Linked DNA regions of Homo sapiens: regions 1, 2, 3, 4, 5 and 6 are each reported to be linked to region 7. The links are microRNA targets in miRTarBase. Many come from high-throughput screens and were not tested one by one. Region 7 holds a microRNA gene; each other region holds the end of a gene's coding sequence. Distances are between the middles of the regions.

Region 1 (4,294 bases), not on the chromosome of region 7:
ATGTTTTTGATGAACGGGGTGGGGAGCAACGATTCTTAGGCTTAAGTTGGATCAAGATAGCATTGGGTCATGTTATAAAATCATCTGTTAGCTCAACAGCCATACTTTTAATTAATTCATTTATTTTTTGAGATGGAGTCTCGCTCTGTCGCCCAGGCTGGAGTGCAGTGGCGCATTTTCAGCTCACTGCAACCTCCACCTCCCAGGTTCAATTCTCCTGCCTCAGCCTCCCAAGTCACTGGGACTACCAGCGCCCACCAGCACGCCCAGCTAATTTTTTTGTTATTTTTAGTAGAGATGGGGTTTCACCATGTTGGCTGGGCTGGTCTCAAACTCCTGACCTTAGGTGATCCACTACCCGCCTCAGCTTCCCAAAGTGCTGGGATTACAGGTGTGAACCACCATGCCCGGCAACAGTTGCACTTTTTTTTTTTTTGAGACGGAGTCTTGCTCTATTTCCCAGGGTGGAGTGCAATAGCACAATCTTGGCTCAGGGCAACCTCCGCCTCCTGGGTTCAAGAGATTCTCCTGCCTCAGCCTCCTGAGTAGTTGAGACTACAGGCACGGGCCACCACGCTTAATTTTGTATTTTTAGTGGAGACAGGGTTTCATCATGTTGGTCAGGCTGAGCCACTGCGCCCGGCCCAGTTGTAGTTTTTAAATGGTACATTTCATTTGGATAAGTAGCTTTGTATTTTAAAAACCACTTAATGGCCAGGTGCAGTGGCTCACGCCTGTAATCCCAGCACCTTGGGAGGCCGAGGTGGGTGGATCACGAGGTCAGGAGATTGAGACCATCCTGGCCAACATGGTGAAACCCTGTCTCTACTAAAAATACAAAAATTTACTAGACATGGTGGCATGCATCTGTAGTCCAGCTACTCGGGAGGCTGAGGCAGGAGAATAGCTTGAACCCAGGAGGCGGAGGTTGCGGTGAGCCGAGATTGCACCACTGCACTCCAGCCTGGCGACAGGGCAAGACTCCGTCTCAAAAAAAAAAAAAAAAAAAAGCCAGACACCGTGGCTCACGCTTGTAGTCCCAGCACTTTGGGAGACTGAGGCGGGCGGATCACGAGGTGAGGAGATCGAGACCATCCTGGCCAACATGGTGAAACCCCCATCTCTACTAAAAACACAAAAAAATTAGCTGGGCATGGTGGCACGTGACTGTAATCCCAGCTACTCAGGAGGCTGAGGCAGGAGAATCGCTTGAATCTGGGAAGCAGAGGTTGCGGTGAGCCAAGTTCTCATCACTACATGTACTCCAGCCTGGCGACAGAGCAAGACTCCATCTAAAAAAAAAAAAAAAAAAAAACCACTTAATATGAAATAACTTCCATTAACTGATCATGAAATTTTGCCCTCTTTCAGATTAAGATGAAGGACACTTCAGTCACATGTTTACTGTGGCAATATAACTAGTCTGGATAATTTTATTAAATCATAGAATATACAGTCAGGAAACACTACAGCTATATTTAGCTGTTAGTTATCTCAATAAGCTACTTAATTTACTGGCAGACCAAAACAGGCATACTAAGCATTTTTATCAATTAAAAAAAGTCTTCAGTTGTTCAAGTTTCACATATACTCATAAAATTTTTAACTCGGGGGCACAGTTAACATAATTTATTGAGTGTTCTCCCTATAAAATATAAATTAACTTTTCCAAAAACATTCCTCAAAGATACTATAAACAAAAGAAATAAGGGTATATTTTATAACAGAAGAGTGTAATAGATGACCATTATGGTAAAACTAAGGTGCCATAAAAAATTTGGCCCAGCTATGAATTTCAGACCCTATGAATTTTTATGTTGAATACATTTGGCTATATTGCTAAGTGGGAAAAGGAGGAAAGTAATACCAAAATTATTGTGACCACCAATTTATAAAATCATTATTTTAAAGCTAATCGTAAAACTTCAAATGTTTAGAAAACAGTAATTTGTGGGTACTAATCGCATCTTACTATGTAACTGTAAAAGGCTATTTTCTCTTTGGTGCCCAGGCCAGCATTTTGAATACATTGCCAAAACATTTGCACTCCCTAGCTCTGACAATTCAAATACATAGGATTTTATCTATTTTACATTCCTGTTTGATAGAAATTTGAGGCAAATTTTACCCACACAGCCTGAAAAATACCTTGAAAGCAAACCTCGGTCTTCTGCATCTTCCAATTGATTCCTTTACAAACTCTGCACACATACAACTTAAGCCTCTGCTCAGGCTTATTATACCATGCACACTGCCCACAAGGAAAAAAATTAATTGAAAATAAAAGCCACAACTCTGTGTACTATTTAAACTGAATATCCAATTATAAATTGGTACATTGAAGTGTCTAAATAAGATGTTTTTAGCAATCTTGTTAAAAAAATTCTTGGGCAAAATATATCTTAATTTTTAAAAACACCCCAAGATTTTTAAAAAACACTTGTACTATACAACTTATAGTAACCTTGAAATTGGTTTACAAGGTTTTAATCAAGGTATTTACATACCAAGTAATGTAAAGCAAAAAAAAAAAAAAAAAAAAACAAAAACAAAAAACTAATTCCCAATGACATTTTAGAACATACTAATGCATCAAAGATTGTATGAAATTAAAATTAAGGCTTTTTCTGCACAATTTGTGTAATTTTAATTTTACATAGTAGCCAACCTTGGAAATGTCAGTCTTAACATTCTGATCAATCCACTGCATTCAATGCAGCGGAGTGTGTTAAGTGTTACTTCAAATAATTACATTGCTGCTACTTCTATGTTGAAGCATGCTTTTTAAACACTGTAGTTATTGAATATTTACAATATGTATCATTTAAACTTCATGTAAAAGCACAAGTATGACTGTCTGACTTCAATACAAACACCATACTTGGATTTCCCCCCAAAATGAAATGTAAAATACTACAATTTTAATAATCGACACTTTTGGAAGTTTTAAAAATATGTCTTAACGTGGACCACCAACATTTGCTCAAGTAACTCAAACAATGCTGTTCCTTTTTTAGGGTGCAAAACTTCAGTCTGGCTTCAGTTTCTTTAGGCATAGAGAAAGAAAATATTTCCTCCAAAGCGACTCCAAAATCACGCATTTCTTCTGAATATCACACTTTTTCTCTGCTGACTTCAAATGTGGTCCACCTCAGGGAAGGGGAGGGGAGTATCAGGATTCAGGATGAACTTATATGTGATTCCCAGGTTTTCACGATCCTCCCTTTTTTGCTCTTTTAAAAACACAGTGAGTTAAAATACTGAACAGCAAGATAAAAATGGAATAGTATCTAAGAATCAAAATGTATTAGCCATTTTTCCTATTATATCAAAATTTGTAGTCAGAATTGTCTTTATTGACTTTATTTTAGTTTTTGTACATAAAGAAAAATCATGTTCATATCCATCATGAACAAAAACTTAAAAAGGCAGAACTAGAAGACACGTGTCCTTCACCAAAGCAAATCTGTGCTAAAGGTTCCAAACATTTCAATTTTTAAAATAAATATTTTCATTTTCCGATGTCTACTTTCATGTCTTCAGAGTGTCACAGGAAATCGAAGCCTATCATGAATTACAATTTTTTTTTAGAGTCCCGGCTCACTGTGTTTGGTAACTTGCCATACCATATCCGGCTTGGTTAGGAGGAGGTATTACAGGGGGAGGAGCTTGTCCTTGGGGAGGCTGAGCACCAAATCCACCCATCCAAGCAGCAGAAGGTGATTGACTTGGAAGAAAAAGAAAAAATCTTCAGCAAACACAAGAAAAAAAAAATCACATATGTATTTACACAAAAATCAAGCAGAGCCTAATCACAGAATAGAAAACCAGAAATCAACACACCTACAACAAATAGAAAGATCAAAGAAATAAATGATATATGTGTAGAATACATATTCCAGTATTAGTCTTTGATATTTTTAAGATAACCACAACTTAACACACTGATGTCTGAGGAGTATCTGCAAACTAATTTTTTAAAAATTGTGAATGATTCAACACATCATCTATTACATAAGAAATTTTAAAAACAAGTTCATGTTGGAAACAGTCTCAAAGGAAGAAATCTGAAAATAAAGCTATGGGCTGGCCCTGGGCAGGGGAATTACAAAGGAGGAAACCACTCTATCAACAAAAGAAAAAAAAAAAAAAAAAAGGCCAGTTACTTTGTATCACACAAACCTCAGATTTCTCACACATACCACATAGGCATAAAACCATCAAACTTTTGAATATATCTGGACAAAGATCTTTTACATGCAAAAATAAATAAAAGTGTATCAGAAATGTAAAT
Region 2 (4,294 bases), not on the chromosome of region 7:
AAAAGTTTTCTTTCTAAACAACTTACAGAGTTATCAAAGTAAACTTTCCATTTCTGCTGTAAAGTTTCAAATTATAAGAGTAGAACTGCCTAGGATTTAAAGTACTGTGTGAGGAAGTCAGCCGGAACACAGCATCAGGAGTGTGACTCAAGCAACAACCTCCTCTCCTTTTCAGGGTATGGTGGCTGTGTCTGGCAGTTTGTCAGTGCTTCTGGATTCCATTATCTGTGCCCTTGGCCCCTTGGCATGTCTCACCACACAACTACCTGAATTGAATGGCTGTCCCAAACAGGTCTTGGTGAGTTTTCCCTGGATTTTTAGAGTCAGATCCATTGGGCGTCAGAGATGCCCTGCCTTAATGAGCACTGTCAGACACACATAAGGCTTTGTGACACACAGTGCTTCCTTCATCTGTTGGCCCATGGAACATGATGCTATATTATCAAATGCATGCTGTACTTTCACTGAAACTAGAAAACAAGCCATTTACCAAAACAGTACTTAAGAAAGCAGCATTCTAGCCCTTGAGGTACTACAATTCCTGTGTTTCCTGTTTGCTATTCTGCACCCAAAGACAGTACAGGAATTGTTTCCCTCTTTTTTACGAGGATTAATGGGAGAAGTCAGCAGAAAAGTTCCTAGCATAACAAACAGCAGGATGCCGTCTTCATTCTCACCTGTTTTTCTAACTCCATTTGATTTTTCTTATCTCTCTCCTTGAACAAAGAAACATCTCTCAGGAAACCAAGGTACAGTACTCTTCAGTTGAACATTTTTCTTTGTTTTGCAGTCAAACACATTAGACAACATTGCTTACATCATGCCGGGACTGTGACAGCAAAGAATCCTGGGACAGAAACCTTATCCTACACCATTGCTGGTTTGTGTATATATGACTGTTGCAGATTCCTTCAGTGGCCTCTGGCTGTAGGTTTTAAATTTTTATATCTATACATACATATATACATATATATATAATGTACAATATATACATAGACTGTAACTACTTTGCTTTTAATAATTTTATGAAATGGCAAAGGTTTAGCCAAGAGGAAATTTTGGCATGAATACAGGCTTGGGATTCTTTTTTCTCCTGTGGTGGATAAATCTGCCTTAAAAATCAATGTAACTTGGGGGCTGGGGGCTTGTTCTGGGTGCCAAGCGCATCTCTTTATGGACAGCTAAAATGTGATTATTTTCCAAGCTCAGTTGGACCTCCAGACCCATCACTGACCATTTGCCTTACCTGTCTTAGTCTGAAATGTAATAGGAAAGATAACGGGAAGATGCCAGTTGACTGAAAATTCAAAGCCTTTCAATTTGAAGTGACCTAGGTGGGAGGTGATAAAATTTGTTCCCTTTATAGTTATGGAAGTGGCTTAGGTGAATTGAGTAGAGGGTTCATTCCAATTCCTACTGTATAGGTGTCTGTGTCTCAAAATTTATTGTAATCATTGGTACCATTGGTGGCCTCAACAGAGGCCAAGGAGTTCTGTGAGCCCTGGCAGCAAAAAACACCTTGGGGGGTGAAGCTGTCAATGCCACCAGTTGGACCTCCATACATTCTGAGCTAACCCAGAATCTTTAGTCGGCAGAATTAAGTGCTGGTGTCTTTCACTGGCAGCATGAAGTTAGCCACCAAGTCCTCACAAGCCGTGCTGCTTAGTTGCTCGGTGGTTATGGATAAACTTTGCCCAGCATGATTTTTGGGTTCATCTTATCAGTTCCCCTGGTGGGCAGATACACAGTGTTCTGCATTCCACATGTAAGTGAATTGCAAAAACAAAACAAAACTCACTCTCTTGTAGGTTTATTTATGTGTGTGTGAATGTGTATTTTAATTATGTGTATTTAACTCTTTAAAATCTCTTAGATTTTAATTTATCCTGTAAATTTCTGTATATATAATTTAATAACAGAAGCCTCCACCAGCAACAGCATGTGGAAGATACAGATTTGTCATTTCTCCCTTCCGCCCTCCCTTCTTTCCTTCCTTCCTTCCCTGTTTCCTTCCCTCTTTCCTTCCTTCCTCCTGGTCTGTTCCAAAAACTCTGAATCATCTACATTTTAAGGTATTTTACCTCAAAAATGAATCATTGTGTTAGGATTCTAATTCTTTATAAAGAACTTCATGGGCTTCAATAATGTCTAGAAAGTAAAATAAAGAGGAATGTTACCATCCCCAGCTGCCCTTATTTCCAGAGAACCAGACGTTTGTTTCCCAGTTGGAAAGAAGACAGTTGAGCACTTCAGGATGGTTTTTAAATTTGGTATGAGATTCTCTGCCAACACCAAGCTCTGAGTTAACTGTGCTTTCTTCTCCTGGCCCTGACAGAGCACTACAGCATCAAAGTAAATCTTTGGGGACAGTGTAGCCCATCTGCATCCTATTTAATTTCTTCCCTTCTCCCCACCAGTGTTGTCACAGGGCTATGTTGCTTAAAGGTAGTCTGGCTGCTGAATCCCTTTCTCAGCTCAGAGCAGTTTTAAGATTTAATTGGGAATACAGAGAAACAGGATTGTTTGAGAACCAAAATCAAGAGGAACAGAAATCTTAACTTGATTTCATGTGTTAGAACATTGTACCATGCCTCTTCTGTATCTGTGGAAGTTTCCTGTTTGACACAGGGTATCTAGGAGGGGCGGGGAAGACATGGATAGTATAGGAAGACATTAATCCTAGCATTGTCATTTATATACATTAATGAAATCCTGATGAGGACCTGCTTTTTGTTTGTTTTCCTTTGAAACCCAGCCCTATTGTATTTGTATTTAAAATTTGTACACATTTGTATAATAATCTGTACCTTGTGGTATTTGGTACTATTAGAGGAAAAACTTTGGATTCAGACCTTCTTGCAGTTTTTATATCATTGTTTTATTTTGTTTTTTAAATAAATTCTAGTGGTTTGATCCAAATCCCATTACAGTTGTATAAAGAAATAAAATTTTGTACTTATATTATTAAAAATCACATTTTTAATATTTGTAGTCCAGTCTCAGCTGTCTTTTCCCTAATCATGATCATCATAGTTGCTATGAAATTATAAAACCTGTTTTTCACTCTATTCTACCATAATTTTCTTAAGAAAAAAATCAACCCACAATGGAGATTAAATTTCTAATCTTAGCCATTTTCTTAATATACTCCTTACTCTGCTTCTATTAACTTTTACATTGTAGAGGTTCTCATTTTCTCTTTTGCAAATTGCAAATTTAGTGAATCTGATAATTCCACCTCCATTTATTGGCAAATGAAACTATGTGCATTATGGTGTTGGCCTAAATCAAGAAAATGTTGATTAATCTTATATAAGGGTTGCATCTGAATCATGTGCTAAATGATATGTTTCAGTACTGTCCTGTTAGCATTACAGTAATGCTGTTGATAAGTTACTTAATCTTTATAGGCTTCCAAAGTCCCATCTATAGAATAGTGTTAAAGTCACTTCCCTGTCTGTAGACCTGCAGCCAGCCAGCCTGACATGAATGTTTAATAACATTATGAACACTGAATATATGGAGATATGACCTTTCAAGGTAAAAACTTCAGTGCAAACACAAGGTGTTAAAAGTCATAAATAGTAAAATAATATGATTAATTACAAGGCTAATGTCTTATGGAAAGGCAGCAAGGAAGAGACTACCGTATCACTGAGTGACTATTAGAGTGATTTGCATACTTTGTCTCACTCATCCTCCGCCCAAAGCCTTAAGAATATTATCTCCCTTTATAGATGCGAAAAAGTACTTTTCCTAAGTTTATACTGCTAGTAAATGGCAAAGGCAGATTAAGAACAGTGAAACAGCTGACCCCAAACCCTAGGCTCTTTTCTACCCCAAGCTACTTTCAGATTTAAATCATGTCTATAATTCATCAGAATGCTTTCCATTATCTCAAGTCCTGAGCGAATGTGATTGTGGGAATGCTGTCTCAGATCTTTGCATTGTTCGGGTATCTAGCTGGCTTTCACTCTTGTCATACTATTGTCTTTAAATTTTGAAGGCAAGGTATCTTGATTTTTGTCTGTAAGCACTTAAAGGATTTAATAGATTACATTTATGCAGACTGTCAATCTTAAGAAATTTGAACATTTTAACCCTCAGTAAGGCATGATATTAATTTTACTAAAACACTTAAAAAGTAAATTGAAACACTTTTTACTAAATCAGTTTGCTCCTTATTAGCACACTTTTTAAAGACAGTTTTAATCAGTTTTGTACTAACTTTAATGTTTGCCATTTACATCCCTATCTACTATGTTGATAAAATCCATATACTGGCCAGGTGCAG
Region 3 (4,000 bases), not on the chromosome of region 7:
GAGAAAAACAACGCTAAATGATTTAATCCTTTCATCTGTGGACACTGTATGCTTTTTGTTTTAATTTAACTGATCAGAAAATTATATTGATATGCAAAATCTCCAGTTAAAACCAATCTTGCAGTGCATTAAAAATACCGATTTCTCATCAAAACCTACAATATACCATGTGAAATGACATGGTGTGAAGAGAACAGTGAGAAAACTGTAGCCACAGCACAGCAAAAAGGAGGGCTGTGATGCATACACAGCTGAAATACACATAATAAGACAAACAAAACTAAGACAATTAGGAAATAAAAGAAGCACAATTTTTTAATTCAGCAAAACTGAGCTTTGCAGCCTGAAAATAAATGTCCTCTCCACATAAAAAATCAATGTTATTTCTCACAATTGATATGTTCCATCTCTGTCTTGAAGTTACAAACTAACTCCAACAGGAATATTTATGGCTTATTATAAAGCATCTGTGACACAGAAAGCACTGTCATGTTTGTTTGCTATATTTATATATAAAAACATCCTCATGATTTAGGAAGCCCCCCTAGTACTCACCTAAATAAATGGGCTCAATCAATATTTACTTATTTTCATTATAAAAACTGAAAGGAACAAAAACTAAAAAAAGTAGGCTTATACAGCGTTCTCCAATTAAAAGAACAAAATAAAATATTCTAACAACATAAAATATAACAATACACTAATTTTGAAATTAAATCTAAATTTTTTGCACTAATTTTATAAAAATTATTTTTATAATCTCTGACCAGCTCACATAGCATCTTATATAAAATAAGAGAAAAAAATGTAAGACACAAGAAAATTATGGGTCTAGCCTAAGAATCAGGCAAGTAAAAACAAAAATTTGCATAGGGAGATTCTGAATTATAAGCCATACAATTTTACAGTAATCAATTCAATACAAAGCAGAGAGTATGGATTTGTTTTCAGCATTTTTAAGTTTTTTTAGTTTTGCAGTCATCATCTAATTAAAATAATTTGATTTGTTTCAATATTGCTCTTCTGAAACTAGGTAGAAACTCATACTCGCAAAGAAGGCATTTATTTACTCCATAATTTTTTTAAACCCAAGCTTTATCTTTAAAGTAATATATGTATATATTTAACTCTGTGTAAATCAAAACTAATAGTCTGTATGTGCTTGCAGGCAGAGAGGCAACATGTTTGAAGAAAAATATATAACAATTTTTTAATGTTAATTCAGGTCTCAGAAATGTATGCATTTTGTTTATATTGTTTTCTTATGACCATAAAAGAGACCCTGTAGCCAACAACAATTTAATGTACATTTGAAAACAACTAAAAGTGGCTGGGTGTGGTGGCTCCCACCTGTAATCCCAGCACTTTGGGAGGCCGAGGGGGCTAATCATGGGGTCAGGAGTTCAAGACAAACCTGGCCAACGTAGTGAAACTGTTTCTACTAAAAATACAAAAATTAGCTGAGTGTGGTGGCATGCGCCTGTAGTCCCAACTACTCAGGAGGCTGAGGCGGAAGAATCACTTGAACCCAGTAGGCGGAGGTTGCAGTGAGCTGAGACCACGCCAATGCACCCAGGCGTGCACAGCCTGGGTGACATAGTGAGACTCGTCTCAAAAAAAAACCGAAAAGTGCAGAATTAGTTTATAATACAAACAAATACAAACAATAAATGCTGCAGGTAATGAATATTTCATTTACCCATATGTAATTATTACATATTATATACCTGTATCAAAATATGCCATATATGCCATATTTACACATACTATGTACCCACAAAAATTAAGAAAAATAAGTTTAAATAAGAAAAAATGAGTAATAATTCAACCTACAGGAATAATATTCTCTGACTTATTTGCAATTTAAAGCCACTGGCAAAACAGATTACTAGAAATGTTAGTCCATTATCTTATTAAATAGTGTATAGTTACCATCATTTACCTATACCCTTGAGTAAGATGGGATAAGTTAAATTTAATGGCATAATAATGCTTCATTGAATGCACGATGGTCTTAACATGTTTTTTAAAAAGCCTGATTAATAAGTTCACACATTATCTAAAAATTTTAAAATGTACTACATTTTATTACATAAAAGTACAATTGGCCAGGCATGGTGACTCGCGCCTGTAATCCCAGCACTTTGGGAGGCCGAGGTGGGTGGATCACCCGAGGTCGGGAGTTTGAGACCAGCCTGACCAACATAGAGAAACCCCATCTCTATTAAAAATACAAAATTAGCCGGGCATGGTGGCACATGCCTGTAATCCCAGCTACTCGGGAGGCTGAGGCAGGAGAATCCCTTGAACCTGGGAGGTGGAGGTTTTGGTGAGCCAAGATCACACCATTGCACTCCAGCCTGGGCAACAAGAGCAAAACTCTGTCTCAAAAAAAAAAAAAGTACAATTAGTAAAATGATATACCAGAAAATTTTTTTTCTCAATATAACACAGGATATTTATCTGAACTCCTACCTCATGCATCAGTCAATATTATAAATTAACCAGAAAGAGCCTCTCCACTTACATTTTCATCTTGCATCTTACATTTTAATGTCCTTAACTCTTTCACTAAAAAAGGTCGTAAATAATGCACACCTAATAACAAAGAATCTCTCATCTTTGATGCAGCAACAATTAAGTCACATGCTTTCACATGTGAATACAATAGGAATGAAGAGCATAACTTGAGTTAAATGACATTATTCACTTTTCATAAAACCTAATTTTTTTCAAAGGATAGTTTGAATGTAGTTACAACTCTGCAAAAATTTTCTACTTCTTATAATGTTATATACAAATAATTCATTTACCAACTTTAGTTTTAGATTCTTTTCTATACTCAGCAATCTGATTTAGTGTAATGCCTGAAGTGTCAGTGCCTTAACTATTTCTACTGTGAATTATCTGATATTTACATAGAATTTTGGATTAAATATTTTTTCATATTTACTGCATCTGCAAAAATAGATTTTAGTATGAACCCTCTAGTGTTTTCTAAGCTGTCGTTTTTGAAAAAATGTTTTCCCAAATTTATTACATTTGCAGGGTTTTTCTCCAATATAAATTTCCTTATGTTGCACAAAGTTTAAGCAACTGCTCCATGGTTTTCCTCTAGCACAAAATGTGTACAATGAGATCTGTGATACAAGTAAAGGTACCACAACCCTCCTTATGTTCATAATGTGTGTCTTCAAAATGAATACTCTTCACTTTAGAGGCTTATATTTTCTGAAAGATTTTTGACAGTAATTGCATGTATAATGCTTTTATTAAGTATGAAATCTCTGATGTTGAGTAAGATGTGAACAGATATTAATGGCTTTTTCACATTCTGTATATTTGAAATTTTTTTCTAGTACAAATGCTTTCCTGTGCAATAAGGTGTGAGCATTGGTTAAAAGTTTTGCCACATTCTTCACACTTGTAGGTTTTTTTTTAGTATGAATTATCTTATGCACAATCAAGTGTGACAACTTTTAAAGGTTTTGTTACATTCTTCACATTTCTAAGATTTCTCACCAGCATAATTTCTTTTATGTTTAGAAAACTTTGAAGTGTTTTCAAAATCACTGTTACATCTTTTAGGTTTGTAGAGTTTCTCACCAGTATGAATTTTCTTATGTCCAGTAAGGTTTGAGGACTGGTTAAAAGCTTTGCCACATTTTTCACATTGGTAGGGTTTCTCTCCAGTATGAATTCTCTTATGTCTAGTAAGGTGTGAGGACTGGTTAAAGGCTTTACCACATTCTTCACATTGGTAGGGTTTCTCTCCAGTATGAATTACCTTATGTGTAGCAAGATGTGAGGAATGGTTAAAGGCTTTGCCACATTCTTCACATGTGTAGGGTTTCTCTCCAGTATGAATTTTCTTATGTTCAGTAAGTTTTGAGGATCGATAGAAAGCTTTGCCACATTCTTCACATTTGTAGGATTTCTCTCCAGTATGAATTCTCTTATGTGTAGTAAGGATTGAGGACTGGTTAAAAGCTTTGCCACA
Region 4 (4,000 bases), 36 Mb from region 7:
CCTGCTCTCTCACCTGCCAACAGGGGTCTGGGAGCACACTGTTGAGCTCGGTACCTCAGTTTTCCCATCCCAAGGGGCTGCAGTGAGGATCAAGGGAACTCCTCGCTCAACTTGGGGCCAGACCCATGGATGGTGACCACGATGCCCCTTTCCCTGCAGGCCGTGTTCCACATGCAGTCGGTGAAATGCCTTAAGTGTCAGGAACAGAAGCGGGCAGTGCTGCCGTGCCAACACGCTGCGCTGTGTGAGCTCTGCGCTGAGGGCAGCGAGTGCCCCATCTGCCAGCCTGGCCGGGCCCACACCCTCCAGTCGTGACCCTGCAGGCCTGGCCCAGCCTGGCCCAGATCTTCTCACCTAGGACTTTTTAAAGTATATATATATATATGAATATATATATATATGTGTATGTATGTATGTATATGTATATGATTATGTATATGTATACATTTCCGTATGTATGTATATGTATACATTTCCGTATGTGTGCAGGTATGCGTGGTGGTGTGGACAGTGTCTGTGTGTATATCTGTACATAGATATAGACACACACTTTAAAAGACTTACCAAGCACTTTTTAAAAGAAGAAACTATTTTGCAGTCCTCCCCTACCCACTCCCTGCCCTTCCCACTGCAGAGATGACATCCCCTCTTCTCCCACTGGCCTTTTGGCAGAGAATCTGGTTCTGTCTCTTTTTTAATGTAGGAACTAACTATTTTTAACTTCTTCCTGGGGCCTGAGCAGGGAAGGGTGGGACTGGAAGGCACTAAGGGGAAGGGAGAAGCCCTCAGGGCAGGCCCTGCTCCCCCTACCTCCTTGCCAGGGCAAGGGTGGAGTGTGGAAGACGTGGGTCCCCCAGAGCAGGCCTGGCCCCCAGCTGTGAGGGCCTCAGGGAGGCCCGAGGGGGAGTGCTGGGGGTCTCAGCTGGCTTAGCTCCTAAGTTTACCAAATGTTAATTTAGTCTTGGGGAGAACAGCAAGGGCTGGAGGCCAGTGCTGCAGGGCCAGCCCCACTCCTGACACCTGGGCCCTTGAAGCTCCTTGAGGGGCAAGGCCCAGGAGTTCCAGCCCTCAGGTTCCTGAGGGTCCACCCTCAGTCCTTCCCCCCGCCGCCCCTCCCCGGACTCCCCACAAGAGCCTCCCTGGCCCCAGGGCCGCCTACCAGGCTGGTACTCATTCTATGACCACCGCCCCCAACCAGCTGCCCCCAGCTCTCCCTGCCCCCTCCCCTCTCTGGCAGCTAGCAGGGCAATTGGCGGGGAGGAGTGCGGACTGAGGACTGAGGACCAAGGGGGCCCAGGCCCTGCCCTCCTACCCGGAGGGGCTCCGTTTGCATTCCTTGGTGCTCTCTGAGTGCAGCTGGTGTCCCGCCCTGTTCTGGGCGGACGCCTGTGTGCGTGTGTGTGTGCCTGTCCAGTGTATATTGTGTCTTAGCTTCCATTTTAAAAATTGTTCTGTACAGAGAGAGATGCAGCAGGGGCGGGAGGGCAGAGTGGGCGGAGGGGAGCAGCCGCACCCCCAGCACCGGGTGTCTGCGGTAGGAACAAGAGGGCTGAGAGGGTCTGGTCCTGGCCCAGGCTCCCCCTTGGGCTCAGCACGAAAGGGCTTTCAATGAATTAAGTGAAAACTTTTTCCTTTTTTACAAAAATGCAAAAATCAACAAAGCTCCAAACCTATTGGAAATAAAATATGAACTTGCAGTGGTAGCTTGTTTACATGGGGGTGAGGGGGAGTGGGTCCCAAAAGAGGGCCTCTGAACTATGAGGTGGGCCAGGAGCCTTGCCTCAGCCATGGAAACGGCTGCTGCCCACACCCCTGAGCTGTGGTAAGGCAGCTGGAGAGGGCTGGAAACTTCCTGGGCCCATCAGGCCCCAAGACAGTTCAAGTGCTCTCCGACCTAGGCCTAGCGGTTGATGACACAGGGACCCTTAGCCTTGGACACAGAGGCCCCCCAGGCCCTAGGACTCTTTAGGGCTGTGTGGTCAGCGGTGACTGGCAATAGGGCCCGTAACTGTTTCTCAGAGGAACAGTGTCTTCCCAACTGGGCATGGTGGCGCATGCCTGTGGTCCCAGCTACTAGGGAGGCTGAGGTGGGAGGATCACTTGAGCCCAGGAGGTCGAGGCGGCAGTGAGCCATGATTGCACAGCTGCCTCCAGCTTGGGTGACAGAGTGAGATCCCATCTCAAAAACAAAAACAGGCCGAGGCGGGCAGATCACTTGAGGTCAGGAGTTCGAGACCAGCCTGGCCAAAATGGTGAAACCCCGTCTCTACTAAAAAAAAAAAAAATACAAAAATTAGCCAGGTGTGGTGGCACATGCCTGTAGTTCCAGCTACTCAGGAGGCTGAGGCAGGAGGATCCTTTGAACCCGGGACGCAGAGGTTGCAGTGAGCTGAGATTGCCCCATTGCACTCCAGCTGGGCGACAGAGTGAGACTCCATCACAAAAACAAAAAACCCAGTGCCTTCCCATTGGGATGATTTGCTGGTAGGACCCAGAGGAAGTCCTGCCTTCTGCCTTCTTCACCCTACCCTGCCCCTGAGGGATGAGGGGCTGAGGCCTAAGAGGTACGTCCTCCCTCCCACCTCCTCAACTAGGCTGTGCGGTGGGGGGTGAGAAAACACCCTGGTGGGATCCTCTTTGCATGGTCTCGGGCCTTGGATGTCATCTCAGCTAACCTCGACTCCTGTCCTCATTTTGTGCAGACTCAGAGGTTCCGACATGGAACCAGGGTCACACAGCTAGGATGACGTGATGACCAGGCCTCAGGTTCTGACACCCCCCAGGCAGGGGAGGGACCCAGCTCCTCTACGCCCTACTGTCTCAAGAGCAGCCCCTCAGCCTCAACCTGCACCCCTGGGAGGCCCCTGCTCACTGTGCTCCCCCGAGGAACGGGTCCCTGTCCTGGGTGTCACCACAGGAACTGGTATGCCTGGTAAAGCAATTTATTCAAAGCCCACGGCCAAAAATCACCCTAGCCCTGCCTCTGCCTCAGTTATTTCCACACCTACCCCCCTGCTTTGTAGCTACCCCAAGGTGGCGGTAGCTCAAAGTCCCCTGAGGGCTGGGGAGGAAGCTACCCGGCCTGGCTCGCATTCCAGGCCCCACTGTAGGCCAAAGGCATATTTTAAGAGGACAATGGATTTGTTTTTATTAATTTTTTTGCTAAGAAAGTTTCTAGGTGGCAGGTGCTGTCCGGGGAGGGGGCGTGCGCAGCAGACACAGCAGCCAAACTGTCCTTTCTGCTTCCGTCTGTCTGTGCCAGCCCTGCCGCCTGCCAGCTCTTGCTCCCTCAGAGCCAGAAGGTTCTTGGCTCCAGGCTTCCTGGCCTGGATGCTGGCAGCCCCTGGGGAGAGGACCCAGGCCCCCTCTAGTAATGGCCACCACCCTCCCCCCAGGGCAGCTGGAGCCTCATCTTTGGCAGGGTCCCCTCTCCCTTTTCCAGGAGACTCTGTGCCTGTAGCCCTGGTCCCAGTGAACCTGGCCCCCACCCCAGTGGCTGGAACAGGAAGGCCAGGAGGCAGATGGGCCAGGGCCAGGAGACAGATGGCCCAATCCCCTGCCCACCACAGCAGCTTTTCTGAGAGGCGGGCAGGGGCAGGGTTTGCTCCCCCTGGTGCTGGGATGTGGTAGAGACATTGCAGCCAGGGCTGGAGGCAGGGAGGCGGGAGTAGAGATGTCGCTGCTGAGCCCCCATCACCATGGGAGGCAGGGGAGGTCTGCACTCTGGGCACTCCGCATGCTGGGGCTCCCCAAGTGTTAGGCCAGGCTGGAGGGCCGCGATGTGGCGGGGAAGCCCCAGACCCTACAGGAAAGCCCTTGCAAGTCCCCACCGGGGACCCAGCCCCACCGCAAACCTCTACGGCTACGGTGCCGGCCGCAAGGCATGCTGGGAGGCCTGCTTGGCCCGGTGCCGCCGCAGCCTCACAAAGACCTGGGCTTCTCGGTCACCCTTCCGGCCCTCCAGCAGCTGCAGGATTGGGTCCCCTGCGGAGAGAGGGGT
Region 5 (4,294 bases), 360 kb from region 7:
TGGGCTACCTCTCTGTCACCTGGGCCATCCCCTATCCCCTGTTCCTTGCTCTGTCACACACTTCTCACTCGTTCCCCAGGCCCATCCCTTGCCTCCCCATCCCTGCTCTGTGCCTTTTCCTGTCTTTGTCTCCTTCCTTCTCGCTGCCCTGTCCCTCTGTCACTCACATTCCCCTTTGTTCCCCACTCCCCACTTTGTTCTCAGCCACCTTCCATCCCCTCATCCCTCCTCTGTCTCCCAGTCCCATCTCTTACCCCTCAGTCCCCTCCCTAACCCCATCTGCACCCCGCCTCTCTGACCACCAACCTCAGTCCTCCCCACTCCAAGGCTCCTCTCTCTCCCCCAGCCCCCGGCCTGTCCCTCTGTCCTCCTTGCATTGCCCCCTCCCCCCAGTACCCCCCTGCCCCTCTCCACTTCCCAGCTGCCTCCCTCTCCCTGTGCTTCTCCTGTCCACGTCTCTCAGGGGGAGCTTCTCCCCTCCCCTCCCCCAGCCTCTCTGCCTCTATCTCCCCTCTAGTCCTTTCTTCCCACGTCCCCACACCTCACCCTCCCCATCTCCAGGCCTTCGGCCAGCCCCTCGCCCCTCACGCCCCTCTTCCCTCACAGACCGCTCGGGCCTGCTGTGTGTGGACAAGATCGAGAAGAGTCAGGAGGCGTACCTGCTGGCGTTCGAGCACTACGTCAACCACCGCAAACACAACATTCCGCACTTCTGGCCCAAGCTGCTGATGAAGGTGACTGACCTCCGCATGATCGGGGCCTGCCACGCCAGCCGCTTCCTCCACATGAAAGTCGAGTGCCCCACCGAACTCTTCCCCCCACTCTTCCTCGAGGTCTTTGAGGATCAGGAAGTCTAAAGCCTCAGGCGGCCAGAGGGTGTGCGGAGCTGGTGGGGAGGAGCCTGGAGAGAAGGGGCAGAGCTGGGGGCTGAGGGAGACCCCCCCACACCCCTTCTCTCCTTCCTCTCGTCCTTGGATAGATTCAGCTCCCACACACACACCCGCACTGCCCAGGTCCCTCCTCAGACCTCCAGCCCTGGGACAGGGCAAACAACTGAACTTGCTATGGAAAGGACAGTGTGGGAGGCTGGGGGAGCTGTGTCCTGCAGTTCCCAGGACCCCATCCTCTCAGAAGGTAGGGGAAGGGCGGGAGGATTGAGAAGGGACAAGCCACCTTGACCGTAGGGGAAGGAGGAATGTGGGCTGGGGGAAGATGCCCTCAACTCACCCCCTACACACACATGAGAGAGAGCCCCCACCCAGTTCCTTGGCCTAGGTCTCCCCTCCAGGCTGAGGGCCTCTCTACTTCCCCAGATGCCTGGGTGCAAAGAACGGCTTGGCTTGGCTCCTCCTCTGGAGGTTAAAATTTATAGTCATTCTAACTGCACTTTGGAAACCAAGCAAGGGGAGAAGACAAATGAAGAAAAACTAGACAGAGAGAAAAATACAAAAAAGAGAGAGCGAGCGATAGAGAGAGATGATATTAAGTTATTAACTGAGGCTGACCAGAGGGGAGGACCCCCCCTTTACCACCCCATGCACTTTGCGAGCTGCCCCTTCTTCCCCCACATCAGAGAGAAATGCCCCCACACCAGAGCCCCAAGGGTAGGGCTGCCGATCAGAGCTGTGAGTTAACACAACAGGGTCCTGGCCACCCCCCTTGCCATACCCCGCCCTCTGTGCCCCTTTGGCACCCCCCAACCCTAGTATGTCCTCTGCTTTCTGCCACTCGTGCCCGCTGAGTTCCATCTACCTCTCATGCTGGATGCCAGCTGGCCCCTCACCAGCCTGCCCTGCTGCCCACACAGCTCCCCTTTAAGTGCCCAGCCCTAGGGGCCTCTCCCCATCCACCTCCTCCTTCCACACCTTGGCACCCACCCAGGAAAAAACTGTGGCTCCAACTCCTACCCTCCTTATATCCTGCAGTATTAGCTAGAAACCGGATGCTGCTGCATTGGTTGGGTCGGGGGTAGGAGGGCTGTGCGTGAGCGTCTCCCAGAACCCTCCACCCCTTTAGCACTCTGTTTCCCTGTTTCCCATCTGTCTTCTGGGCTCTCTCTAACCTCTGCCCTCCTCCCCAGCTCCTACTCACTGCACTAACTCTGGGCGGGCAGGTACCAGAATGGGGGTGTTTAGATAAGTGACACTTAGTTGGGGCCCCAGGGGAGGGGTGGTCGGTGCTCCTTTTTCTTTAAAGCTCTTTTGGCCAGCTGCCCCTCTGCCCCGGGACCCCTTCCCCTCTTCTTTTCTCTAATTCAGGGACTTTGGCTTGAGCCCCTCTCGCCCTCCTGGTGAGGGTGCTCTGTTGGTCTGCACTTGGGTGAGCTGTCCTCCTCCCCCTCCCTGTGGCTGCCGCCCACTCCTCAGGGGAGAGAGGGAGAGAGGAGGTGGTCCTCCCATGGGAGCAGGAGGTGGGGTGGGACAGAGCAGACCAGAGGGTGCTGGGCTCAGGGCTGCATGTCGGCAGGGATGGATGGGTGGACACAGATGCCCCCGGAAGCCATGGGGATTGGGGCAGGGGGTGGGGGGAGGGGTGCCAGGGCTTCCTGCGCTTTGCACTATTGGGGCAAAAATGTCTTAAGCAGTGGGGAACCTGCCACCCCACCCTGACCCTCAGCCTGCCACAGCCCCCTACACACACACACACACACACACACACACACACACACACACGGACATGCACACACGGACATGGGAAGGCAATGCTATGCTGCCCGTCAGGGCACTGTCCTTCCCCAATCGTTCAGGTGTTCCAACAGGGGTGGAGGGCCTGGAGGAGCACCCGCTGTCACCTGTGCATGTGCCTGTCCCACCCTGCTGGGGCCTCGGGCTGCCCGCGCTGTCTTTGTCTCTATCCTCTCTCTCTCTCCTGGAGTACTGAATCCTGTATTACTCCAGTCCCATGGGTAGGCCCTCTTGTACCTTCCTACCACGCCTGGGGGCCCAGTGGAATTCCTGACCTGTCTGCTGTCTTCCCCATCCCTCCATCCCCACCCCAACCCCTCCATCCCCATTCTCAGCCATGGACACGGCAGAGAAAAGGCCTTGAAGAGCCTTAGCCTCTTATAGGCACTTGGGACTCCCCCACCCTCCCCAATCATATGAGCTGTGATCCCATCCTCCCCGGACCCCTCCCTTCCCCCTCGGTGATGTGGGGTGTATGTGTGCGTTCCTCTGCGTGAATGTGTGAGTGAGTACACATGGTAGGGGAGGAGCCAGGGCGACTCAGGAGTGCCACGCACCTGCTCTAGAGCGGCAGCTGTCCCAGTCCCTGCTGTGGAAGTGGGGGACAGGGCCCTCTCCTGGGGGCCATTGGTGCTAATGAGGGGGATGGCCTTGATGTGGGTGCTCAGCATGCCTCCCCCAGTATTGGCCCGGGGCACTAGGGCAGGCAGGGTGGAGCAGCAGGTGCAGTATCGGTGGGAGGACGGGTTGCTGGGAATAGGACGAGGGGGCCAGGCCAGGACAAGGGGTTGCCAGAGCCATGACCACTACCCCGCCCCCACCACCCGCCTCTCCATCTCAGTATTGCCCCTCCCATCACTCATAACACACATACCTCATCCAGCCTCCTCCCTGCTCAGACTTGGGGAGGGTGGGGGAGGAGCCCCTACCCCTTCTCCTGGTGGCGGGTCTGCAGGGCTGGGAGAGGGCAGGGCGTTGTGAGAGAGAGACCGTCCATAAGGAGGACAGTAACTCCTGCCCTGGGAACTCCTGGGCGGGGGGGAGGGGGACACTGCCCAGAGGCGCTACTGAATGTATGAGAAGCTGGTGCTGGGCTGGGGGGAGGGGGGTTGTGGCCAGAAACAGGGAAGGAGGTAGGTCTCTTCCCCAGGGAGGGGTGGGACCGGCAGGGGTGACTTGAGGGGCTCCTACTCCTGCCCCACGTTGACAATCAGTATGTCTGTTATGTGCGATTTTTCACCCCGTTGTGTTTTGGGTCAGGATTTTAAAGAAAGATATTTTTATGGTAATTGTTGCTCGTCTATTTTACTATATATTTATGTAATAAATATATGATGAAAATAACCCCCTTGGGCACCCCCCTTAGACTTGTGTGCTGTTTCCCTATATCCTCCCATCTGCTGGCAGAGTACCCACCCCACAAACTGACCAGATGGAGAGGTGGCCCCCCCCAGCCTTGGCAGTATTTCCACCCCACCCCCCAAACGAGCACACACCACAGAAGCCAGCTCAGCTGTGAACTATTGGATTTGAGACAGGAACAGAACAAATCAGAGGGCCAGGGGAGGGTTGTGGGGGAGACAGAGTGGTTTAAATAGGGGAGGAGGGGA
Region 6 (4,294 bases), not on the chromosome of region 7:
AAAAAAAAAATTAAAAAAAAAAAAATAATAAAATGAGAAAGATTAGAACATTTGGAAAAAATGCAGGCTGGCGTGCGGTGGCTCAGGCCTGTAATCCCAGCACTTTGGGAGGCTAAGGCGGGCAGATCACCTGAGCTCAGGAGTTGAGACCAGCCTGGGCAACATGGTGAAACCCCGTCTCTATCAAAAACAAACAAACAAACAAAAAACTAGCTGAGTATGGTGGTCTATGCCTGTGGTCCTAGCTACTTGGGAGGCTGAGGTAGGAGGATGGCTTGAGTCTGGGCGGCGGAGGCTGCAGTAAACTGAGATTACGCCACTACATGCCAGCCTAGGTGACAGAGTAAGACCTTATCTCAAAAAAAAAAAAAAAGCTGAAAAGGGGAATTAAATATATATTTCCAAATCTGCCCGCATGGAAATTACATTCCAGTGGTGCAATGATGAAGGATAACATTTGGCATGTTAGCGGTAAGTGCTTAAGAAACAAGGCCAGGTGTGGTGGCTCACACCTGTAATCCCAGCACTTTGGGAAGCCGAGCTGGGTGGATCACAAAGTCAGGAGATGGAGACCATCCTGGCCAACATGGTGAAACCCCGTCTCTACTAAAAATACAAAAATTAGCTGGGCGTGGTGGCGCGTGCCTGTAATCCCAGCTACTTGGGAGGCTGAGGCAGAAGAATCGCTTGAACCAGGGAGTCTGAGGTTGCAGTGAGCTGAGATTGCGCCACTGCACTCCAGCCTGGTGACAGAGAGACTCCATCTCCAAAAACTAAAAAAATAAATAAAAATTGAAAAAAGAGAAAGAAACAAAAGGAGTGAAGGGGCACAAAGATGGAGGAGCTGAAGGTGAAGGCTGAGTGGTCAGAGAAGGCCTCGCTAAATGAAGACCTGAAGGCAGTGAGGGGTGAGCTTGTGGACAGCTGGTGGCCAAACATTCCAGGTCGAGCAAACAGCAAGTGTAAAGGATCCGGGGTTGGAGCCAGCCTGGTGTGTCGAAATACATTTGCTCACAGTTCCTGTGCACTGAAGAGGCCAGTGTGGCAGGGGCTGTGTGAGCAAAAGGGCACCATATCCAATCAGATCAATATATTTACAAATACTTCTAGATGCATGAGCTATCTCTAAAGGAATGTACAGGAAACACTGGCACTGGTGGCAAACCCTGGGCAGAATCAGGCAGCTGGACTCAAGGAGTCCAGCACCTTGACTTTTCACTGGCCGTCCTGTTTCATTTGAAATTTTCATGGTGTTGGCTGGGTGTGGTGGCTCATGCCTGTAATCCCAGCACTTTGGGAGGCCGAGGTGGATGGTTAACCTGAGGTCACGGAGTTCAAGACCAGCCTGGTCAACACGGTGAAACTACTCTCTAAATCGCTACTAAAAATACAAAAAATTAGCTGGGTGTGGTGGCAAGCGCCTGTAATCCCAGCGTTTTGGAAGGCTGAGGCAGAATTGCTTGAACCGGGAGGTGGAGGTTGCAGTGAGCAGAGATCACATCACTGCACTCCAGTCTGGACAACAGAGCAAGACTCCATTTCAAAAAAAAAATTTTTTTTTCATGGTGTTTAAGTTCTTTGCTACTTCCAACCCACGCCATAACCTCCCACGATCCCTCAAGCTCCCTGTGTGTGCACTAAGGTCCTGTTTACAGCCACTTTTTTTTTTTTTGAGACGGAGTTTCGCTCTTGTTGCCTAGGCTGGAGTACAATGGCACAATCTCGGGTCACAGCAACCTCCACCTCCTGGGTTCAAGCAATTCTCCTGCCTCAGCATCCAGAGTAGCTGGGATTACAGGCATGCACCACCACGCCTGGCTCATTTTGTATTTTTAGTAGAGACGGGGTTTCTCCATGTTGGTCAGGCTGGTCTGGAACTCCCGACCTCAGGTTATCTGCCTGCCTCGGTCTCCCAAAGTGCTGGCATTACAGGCGTGAGCCACCGCGCCCGGCCCCTACAGCCACTTTTCTTCATGAGCAGCTATTTCACAAGATCTATCTCTGGGGCCATTTTTCTCCATACAAGAATCATCCCTGCTCATGTGAATGCATCAGACAAGTTTGTAACCATTTGAAGTTTTGTTTTTGTTTTTTGGGGATGGAGTCTCGCTCTGTCGCCCAGGCTGGAGTACAGTGGTGTGATCTCAGCTCACTGCAACCTCCACCTCCCAGGTTCAAGTGATTCTCCTGCCTCAGCCTCCCCAGTAGCTGGGATTAGGGGCACGCACCACCACACCTGGCTAATTTTTGTATTTTTATAGTTTTTTTTGTATTTTTAGAAGAGATGGGGTTTTACCAGCTTGGCCAGGCTGGTCTTGAATCCCTGACCTCGTGACCCACTCGCCTGGGCCTCCCAAAGTGCTAGGGTTACAGGTGTGAGCCACCACACCCCGGCCATTTGAAAGGTTTTGAGGACACACCAATTCAGCCATAAGAGTGTTCCGGCTGGTCATGCTAGCTAGGTCCCTGTTGACGAGTCTGTTGGGGATATTCTGGGCTGTTATTGTGTGGCAATTCTTTTGGGGGCACCATGAAGAACAGCTCTCAACTTGGCCTACTTAAATGACTTCCAACTACCATCATGATCAGCATGAAAGAGCAGGTCCCAACACGGGGAGAAGTTACACATTGTGCAGGAGATTGCTTATTAGATATTAAGAACTCTTTTTTTTTTTTTTTTTTTTTTTTGGTGAGATGGAGATTTACTCTTGTTGCCCAGGCTGGAGTGCAATGGCATGATCTCGGCTCACCACATCCTCTGCCTCCCAGGTTCACGCGATTCTCCTGCCTCAGACTCCCGAGTAGCTGGGATTACAGGCATGTGCTACCATGCCTGGCTAATTCTGTACTTTTAGTAGGGACGAGGTTTCGCCATGTTGCCCAGGCTGATCTTGAACTCCTGACCTCAGGTGATCTGCCCACCTCAGCCTCCCAGAGTGCTGGGATTACAGGCATGAGCCACTGTGCCCGGCCATTAAGAACTAATTTCTTAGGTGTAAATAATTATGTTAAAAAAATAGGTATCTCCAGGCAGGAGAATAGTTTGAACCCAGAAGGCAGAGGTTGCAGAGAGCTGAGATGACACCACTGCACTCCAGCCTGGGCAACAGATTGAGACTCTGTCTCAAAAAAAAAAAAAAAAAAATTGTATCTCCAAGAGATACATATAGTTTCTTATTTCTGGATAAAATATAATCTTTATGTATTTTATATTATATTATAATCTATATAATTTGCTTTAAAATTATGTAGGGTGGTTGCACACATAGGAACTTAGGTTATTCTGTATAATCAACTATTTGACTCATTGACTGGCACAGAGAGGGTGGCCAAGGTTCAATAAAATTAAGTTAAAAAACGCTAGGCATGGTGGCTCATGCCTGTAATCCCAGCACTTTGGGAGGCCGAGGCAGGTGGATCATCTGAGGTCAGGAGTTTGAGACCAGCCTGGCCGACATGGTAAAACCCCATCTCTACTAAAAATACAAAAATTAGCCAGGTGTGGTGGGGTGTGCCTGTAGTCCCAGCTAGTCGGGAGGCTGAGGCAGGAGAATCGCTTGAACACTGGAGGTGGAGGTTGCAGTGAGCAGAGATCGTGCCATTGCACTCCAGCCTGCGTGAAGAACGAGACTCCATCATAAAAAAAAAAAAAATTAAATTAAATTAAATAAATAAAAACAAAACAGAGAAAATACTCATTCAAGCCCCTCCCTGGTCAGGGCACTGATTCCAGCCCAGCTTCTTGCCACTGCCTGGCCCGTTCACACGCATAGTCTCACTTTTCCAATGAGTTTTTATTAGCAGGTAAGTCATGATTTAGGATCCTGGGGTGGGGATCACTGGGTACCAGGTCCCCCTTCACCATCCTGGGAGAAGGATGGAGGACAGAGGAAAGGGAGATGCAGCCAGTTCAGATCTTCCCGGGAAACGTGCCTTCAGCCCGTTGCTCATCCCAGTCTGTGACCTGTGGAAAGACAGTGTTATTCCCTCCGCAGTGGGGAAACTGAACGGATGGACTTCTTATCTTCCTCACTTTGCCCACCTGTTTGTTCAACCAATATCCACAGGTACCTGCTGTGTGCCAACCTCTATTCTAGAGGCCGGGGAATCAGCAGTGACCCCAAAAGACAGAAATCACTGTTCTGAACAAGCTGACATGCTGGGAGGAGAGTAATGGGCAGGAAAACCCCAGGCCCACTGCAGAGCTGTCGATGGGGAGATGTGTCACTGTACAGAGCTCCAAGGGTGGGCCCTGCTTTGAAAACCTCAAGTCAACACTATGCTGTTTGTCCAA
Region 7 (4,294 bases):
TCCTTCCTCATGGGGGGCAGTACTAGGTTTCAGGGACAGTCTCTGAATGGGTCGCTTTTGTTCTTAGACACTCCCTTAGGGCCGCTTCCCCTCTCAGGCCAGCTTCCCTAAGGCTTTCAGTACCCAGGATCTGGAAGGAAAGGGCCAAGCTGGGCTGTGGCATCCACTGGACCCTAGAGTCTCATTGGGCAGGGCCTCAGAATCCACAAAGACTCCCCAGTGCTGTTCCTCTTCCAACGAGGCTGGACCCCTTCCAGCCATCTGGGAACTCAAGCAGGAAGGAAGGTTCCTTAGGACAGGTTCCTGGCATGGCAGGTTCCCCTGGAAGTGGTCGGAGGGCCCTCCCACCTCTTGATGCCAGCAGAAGTCAGGCCTTCCCTGCTCCCTGAGGACACATCAGGGCTTCTGCGGACTTGGCCTTCTGGTTCACACTGGCACGTCCAGACCCAGGTACTCTGGGTTCTCTGCCGTAGGTGTCCCTTTGAAGGTGCTGGGTGGAGCCCCCCGCTCTGGTGGGTCCTGGTCCCAGTAATAGAGGTTGTCGAAGGCTGGGCTGAAGGCAGGAGGAGGGTGGGGCTGAGGGGCAGCTCCTCCCTGGGGTGTCAAGTACTCGGGGTTCTCCACGGCACCCCCAAAGGCAAAAACGTCTTTGACGACCCCATTCTTCCCTGGGGAGAGAGTCTTGGGCCTTTCCAGAGTGGCACCAGCAGGTCGGGCAGCAGGCAGAGGGCCCTCTCGGGGCGAAGGGGGCTGGGGCCGAACATCTGGCTGGTTCACATATTCTGAAAGGTCAAGAGAAGGTGACCCATTAGGGGAAGGAACCCCGGTGTCTCTGCCACTCCCTCTGCCCCCACAGTGGACCCTGGGCTGAAGGTCCCACCTCCCCTGCCCATCAGTCTCTCTGCTTAGACTGGACTCCATACCAGGCTGGGGGCTGCAGGTCAGGGGGGCAACGTAGCCATCAGTCTCAGAGGGCAGGGGTACTGTGGGGTCCTCACTGTACCGCTGTAGAGGGCTGGGGTCATGTGTGGGGAGGCTTTGCAGCCCCTTGGCTGCCCCCATTCCCAGGTCACCATCAAATACATCGGAGCCAGCCCCTTCGGAGGGTGCCAGTGGAGACCTGGGGGCCTCCTCTTCAGAGGGCTCCAGCCCTAGTGTCAGGTCCCCACCGCCACTCTGGGGACAAGAAAGAAAGTCATGATGGGGGTCACTCACGGATCTGGGATGGGGACTCCATGGAAGGTGACAGGGTCACAGGAGAAAAACAGAGGTCACCTTTGGGGTATGACACAGTCACCGTGGAGAGAATGGGGTCACAGGGGTTGGAAGGCAGTAAGAATTTTTTGTAGGGATAATGGGGTTTCCTTGAGAGGTGACAGTTGAGGGAACATCAGAGAAAGGGACCCTAGTCCACCGGGGTTGGGGGAGGTAAGCAGACAGCCACACAGTGTGACCGAGGGCACTGACCCTGGTAGATGAGCTGCGGTGCCTGTGGTGGACCATGCCCCCAGCGCCCGGGGCAGGGTCTGGACAGAAGAAGCCCTGCTGGGGTACCAGATACTCCTCAGCATCCACCAGGTCCCCCATGTCATCGTCCTCCAGCAGTGAGCGGTAGAAGGTGCTGTCCAAGGGACTGGCTGGGCCCAAGTCCTCATTCTGTGGAGGAAGGAGAGGCAGGATGGTGGCCCCTCCCCAGCCCAGCATGCAGCCTTCCGTGAGGGGCCTGGCATACTGGACTCATCTCTCCTTCCCACCCTCTGCAGGAGGGTGCTCTTAGCCACAGGCAGGGATGGGGCACAGAGGCCCAGTACCTGGATGACCACAAAGCGCTGGGGGTCCCTGGCCATGCGGGAGAATTCAGACACCAACTCCCGGAATCTTGGCCGACATTCAGAGTCAATCATCCAACCTGGGGCAGGAGGGAGGTCAGCATGCTAGTCCCAGGCCCTGTGTGCTTGCTGCCTCTCCCCTCCCACTCCCCCTCCAGTCTGGTCTAGACAGTCCCAAGGGACAGCCCAAAGCCCTCAGGTGGTAGAGAAGTAGCACCAGACTCTGGGGTCTTCAGCCAGAACCTTTGGCATCTCTTCTAGTTTCCCTTTTAATTTTTTTTTTCTTTTTGTTTGCTTTTTTATTTTTTTGAGATGAGGTTTCGCTCTGTCACCCAGGCTGGATTTCAGTGGTGCAATCATAGCTTACTGCAACCTTAAACTAGGCTCAAGTGATCTTCCTGCCTCAGCCTCTCCTGAGTAGCTGGGACTACTGGCACACACCACCACACCCAGATAATTTTTTTATTTTTTGTAGAGATAGGATCTCACTATGTTGCCCAGGCTGGTCTTGAACTCCTGGCTTCAAGGGATCCTCCCACCTCAGCCTCCAAAAGTACTGGGATTACAGGCATGAGCCACTGTGCCCAGCTTAATTTTGTACAAGAGTGTTCCTCAAGAGTGGCTTTGGACTTTGACTGTAAAAGGGATACAAGAAGGTTTTGAGGCTCCTAACATACTAGGGCTCCTGGGTCTACATACATCCTGGTCCCCTTTCATGCCCCTTGTGGGCTCCTCCACCCAGGACCTCCCACCCTCCTCCAGGCAGCCAGCACAGCTCAGCCACGCACATTTGACCATGATCATGTAGACATCAATGGTGCAGATGGGGGGCTGGGGCAGCCGCTCCCCCTTTTCCAGCAGGTCAGGGATCTCCCGGGCTGGGATCCCATCGTAAGGTTTGGCCCCAAAAGTCATCAGCTCCCACACAGTCACACCTAAGGCAGAGACAGGGTCAGGAGTGGGAGGGCCAGAGGGAGCTTTAGTGTACTGAGCCAGAGGTTCTGCTCAGGAGTCTAGCATCATGGCAGGTAGCAGGGGGAGATGTGATGCCAGGAGACAGACCCTACCCGGTCTTTCCCTAATCCTGGGAAGTGCACAGACCCTGCAAGGTGGGGCACAGGCAGCCCCTTCCCTCCCTTCACATGCTGAGGTGGCCCCGTAATTCTCCCCATCCCAGCTCTCATCCTCCCTCCAGCCATGGCTCCTCACCCACCCCTCCCAACACCCCCCATCACACACCATAACTCCACACATCACTCTGGTGGGTGAACCGCCGGCGGAGAATGGACTCCAGCGCCATCCACTTGATGGGCACCTGGGAGGGCAGAAGAGGAAGTCCTCCAACTGTGTGTTGTGGGGAGGTGGCCACTCAGAGTTCTCCCATGGGCTAGACACCACTCCACCCAGCCTCCTCTGCTCCTTGGTCCTTCACCTAACCTTGCCCCCATCTGCATGGTACTCTGTCTCGTCAATGTCCAGCAGCCGAGCCAGCCCGAAGTCTGTAATTTTGACATGGTTGGGACTCTTGACCAGCACGTTCCGAGCGGCCAAGTCCCTGTGTACGAGCCGCACATCCTCCAGGTAGCTCATCCCCTGGAATGGGAAGCACCCATGTAGACCTTCTGGGAGGGCCTGGGCCTGGCCACATGCCCAGCAAGAGTCCCCATCCTAGCCCCTTGTGGACATAGGGGTTTGCTCCGGAGAGACCTGCAAAGAGCCCAGGTGCATACCTTGGCAATCTGCATACACCAGTTCAGCAGGTCCTGGGAGCCCAGGCGTCCGCGGTTTTCCCGGACATGGTCTAAGAGGCAGCCATAGGGCATAAGCTGTGTCACCAGCTGCACCGTGGATGTCAGGCAGATGCCCAGAAGGCGGGAGACATATGGGGAGCCCACACCAGCCATCACGTATGCTTCCTGGGGACAAGGGTACGCTGAGAGGGTATGGGAGACCACACACCCCCAAACACCACACAGCCTCCCAACCATCACAAACCACAGCCATGGCCCACAGCCTGTGAAGGCTCAAAGTACCAGCCTGGACAACATGGTGAAACCCTGTCTCTACTAAAAATACAAAGATTAGGCCGGGCACGGTGGCTCACACCTGTAATCCCAGCACTTTGGGAGGCCGAGGCGGGCGGATCATGAGGTCAGGAGTTTGACACCAACCTGGCCAACATGGTGAAATCCCATCTCTACTAAAAATACAAAAATTAGCCGGGCGTGGTGGCTCGCGCCTGTAATCCCAGCTACTCAGGAGACTGAGGGAGAAGAATCGCTTTAACCTGGGAGGCTGAGCTGAGACCGCACCATTTCACTCTAGCCTGGGTGACAGAGCGAGACTCTGTCTCAAAAAAAAAAAAAAAATTAGCGGGCGCTTGTAATCCCAGCTACTCAGGAGCCTGAGGCATGAAAATCGCTTGAGTCCAGGAGGTGGAGGTTGCAGTGAGCCGAGATAACGCC

What was found. The annotated mature microRNA hsa-miR-4728-5p reads UGGGAGGGGAGAGGCAGCAAGCA and lies in region 7 at 1,953-1,975, opposite strand. An mRNA with a match to its seed (bases 2 to 7 or 8) in the 3' UTR can be bound and repressed. Matches are read on the target gene's strand: a 7mer-m8 pairs with bases 2 to 8, a 7mer-A1 pairs with bases 2 to 7 and ends in A, and an 8mer does both.
Region 1: the mRNA of TIAL1 is a reported target of hsa-miR-4728-5p. Seed matches in the 3' UTR shown: 7mer-m8 at 3,161-3,167.
Region 2: the mRNA of HMGXB4 is a reported target of hsa-miR-4728-5p. Seed matches in the 3' UTR shown: 7mer-m8 at 1,976-1,982.
Region 3: the mRNA of ZNF681 is a reported target of hsa-miR-4728-5p. Seed matches in the 3' UTR shown: 7mer-A1 at 2,312-2,318, 7mer-A1 at 2,146-2,152 and 7mer-A1 at 1,368-1,374.
Region 4: the mRNA of UNK is a reported target of hsa-miR-4728-5p. Seed matches in the 3' UTR shown: 7mer-m8 at 1,111-1,117 and 7mer-m8 at 1,220-1,226.
Region 5: the mRNA of THRA is a reported target of hsa-miR-4728-5p. Seed matches in the 3' UTR shown: 7mer-m8 at 2,337-2,343, 7mer-A1 at 2,392-2,398, 7mer-m8 at 3,087-3,093, 7mer-m8 at 3,129-3,135, 8mer at 3,532-3,539 and 7mer-A1 at 4,074-4,080.
Region 6: the mRNA of COX6B1 is a reported target of hsa-miR-4728-5p. The part of its 3' UTR that is shown has no 7-base or 8-base seed match.

Annotation. Positions count from the first base shown.
Region 1 is chr10:119,572,065-119,576,358 of GRCh38, forward strand. TIAL1 (TIA1 cytotoxic granule associated RNA binding protein like 1) reads right to left here. Exons shown (of 12, transcript NM_003252.4): 12 at 1,401-3,727. The coding sequence ends at 3,601. Among named protein-coding and RNA genes, the nearest start is that of TIAL1, 23 kb to the right of the region's middle.
Region 2 is chr22:35,292,817-35,297,110 of GRCh38, forward strand. HMGXB4 (HMG-box containing 4) reads left to right here. Exons shown (of 11, transcript NM_001003681.3): 10 at 176-298; 11 at 791-2,991. The coding sequence ends at 835. Among named protein-coding and RNA genes, the nearest start is that of TOM1, 4.9 kb to the right of the region's middle.
Region 3 is chr19:23,740,104-23,744,103 of GRCh38, forward strand. ZNF681 (zinc finger protein 681) reads right to left here. Exons shown (of 4, transcript NM_138286.3): 4 at 1-4,000. The coding sequence ends at 3,509. Among named protein-coding and RNA genes, the nearest start is that of ZNF681, 17 kb to the right of the region's middle.
Region 4 is chr17:75,824,103-75,828,102 of GRCh38, forward strand. UNK (unk zinc finger) reads left to right here. Exons shown (of 16, transcript NM_001080419.3): 16 at 160-1,697. The coding sequence ends at 315. It overlaps UNC13D (unc-13 homolog D), which reads right to left. Exons shown (of 32, transcript NM_199242.3): 32 at 3,123-3,984. The coding sequence ends at 3,863. Among named protein-coding and RNA genes, the nearest start is that of UNC13D, 18 kb to the right of the region's middle.
Region 5 is chr17:40,088,600-40,092,893 of GRCh38, forward strand. It overlaps THRA (thyroid hormone receptor alpha), which reads left to right. Exons shown (of 9, transcript NM_199334.5): 9 at 607-4,294. The coding sequence ends at 857. It overlaps NR1D1 (nuclear receptor subfamily 1 group D member 1), which reads right to left. Exons shown (of 8, transcript NM_021724.5): 8 at 4,194-4,294. Among named protein-coding and RNA genes, the nearest start is that of NR1D1, 9.8 kb to the right of the region's middle. RefSeq lists enhancers at 1,991-2,616, 2,617-3,243.
Region 6 is chr19:35,658,264-35,662,557 of GRCh38, reverse strand. It overlaps COX6B1 (cytochrome c oxidase subunit 6B1), which reads right to left. Exons shown (of 4, transcript NM_001863.5): 4 at 3,776-3,964. The coding sequence ends at 3,911. Among named protein-coding and RNA genes, the nearest start is that of UPK1A, 6.1 kb to the left of the region's middle.
Region 7 is chr17:39,724,177-39,728,470 of GRCh38, reverse strand. It overlaps MIR4728 (microRNA 4728), which reads right to left and starts at 1,976; the gene lies at 1,910-1,976. It overlaps ERBB2 (erb-b2 receptor tyrosine kinase 2), which reads right to left. Exons shown (of 27, transcript NM_004448.4): 20 at 3,560-3,745; 21 at 3,267-3,422; 22 at 3,069-3,144; 23 at 2,618-2,764; 24 at 1,812-1,909; 25 at 1,468-1,656; 26 at 924-1,176; 27 at 1-782. The coding sequence ends at 427. RefSeq lists an enhancer at 1,196-2,168.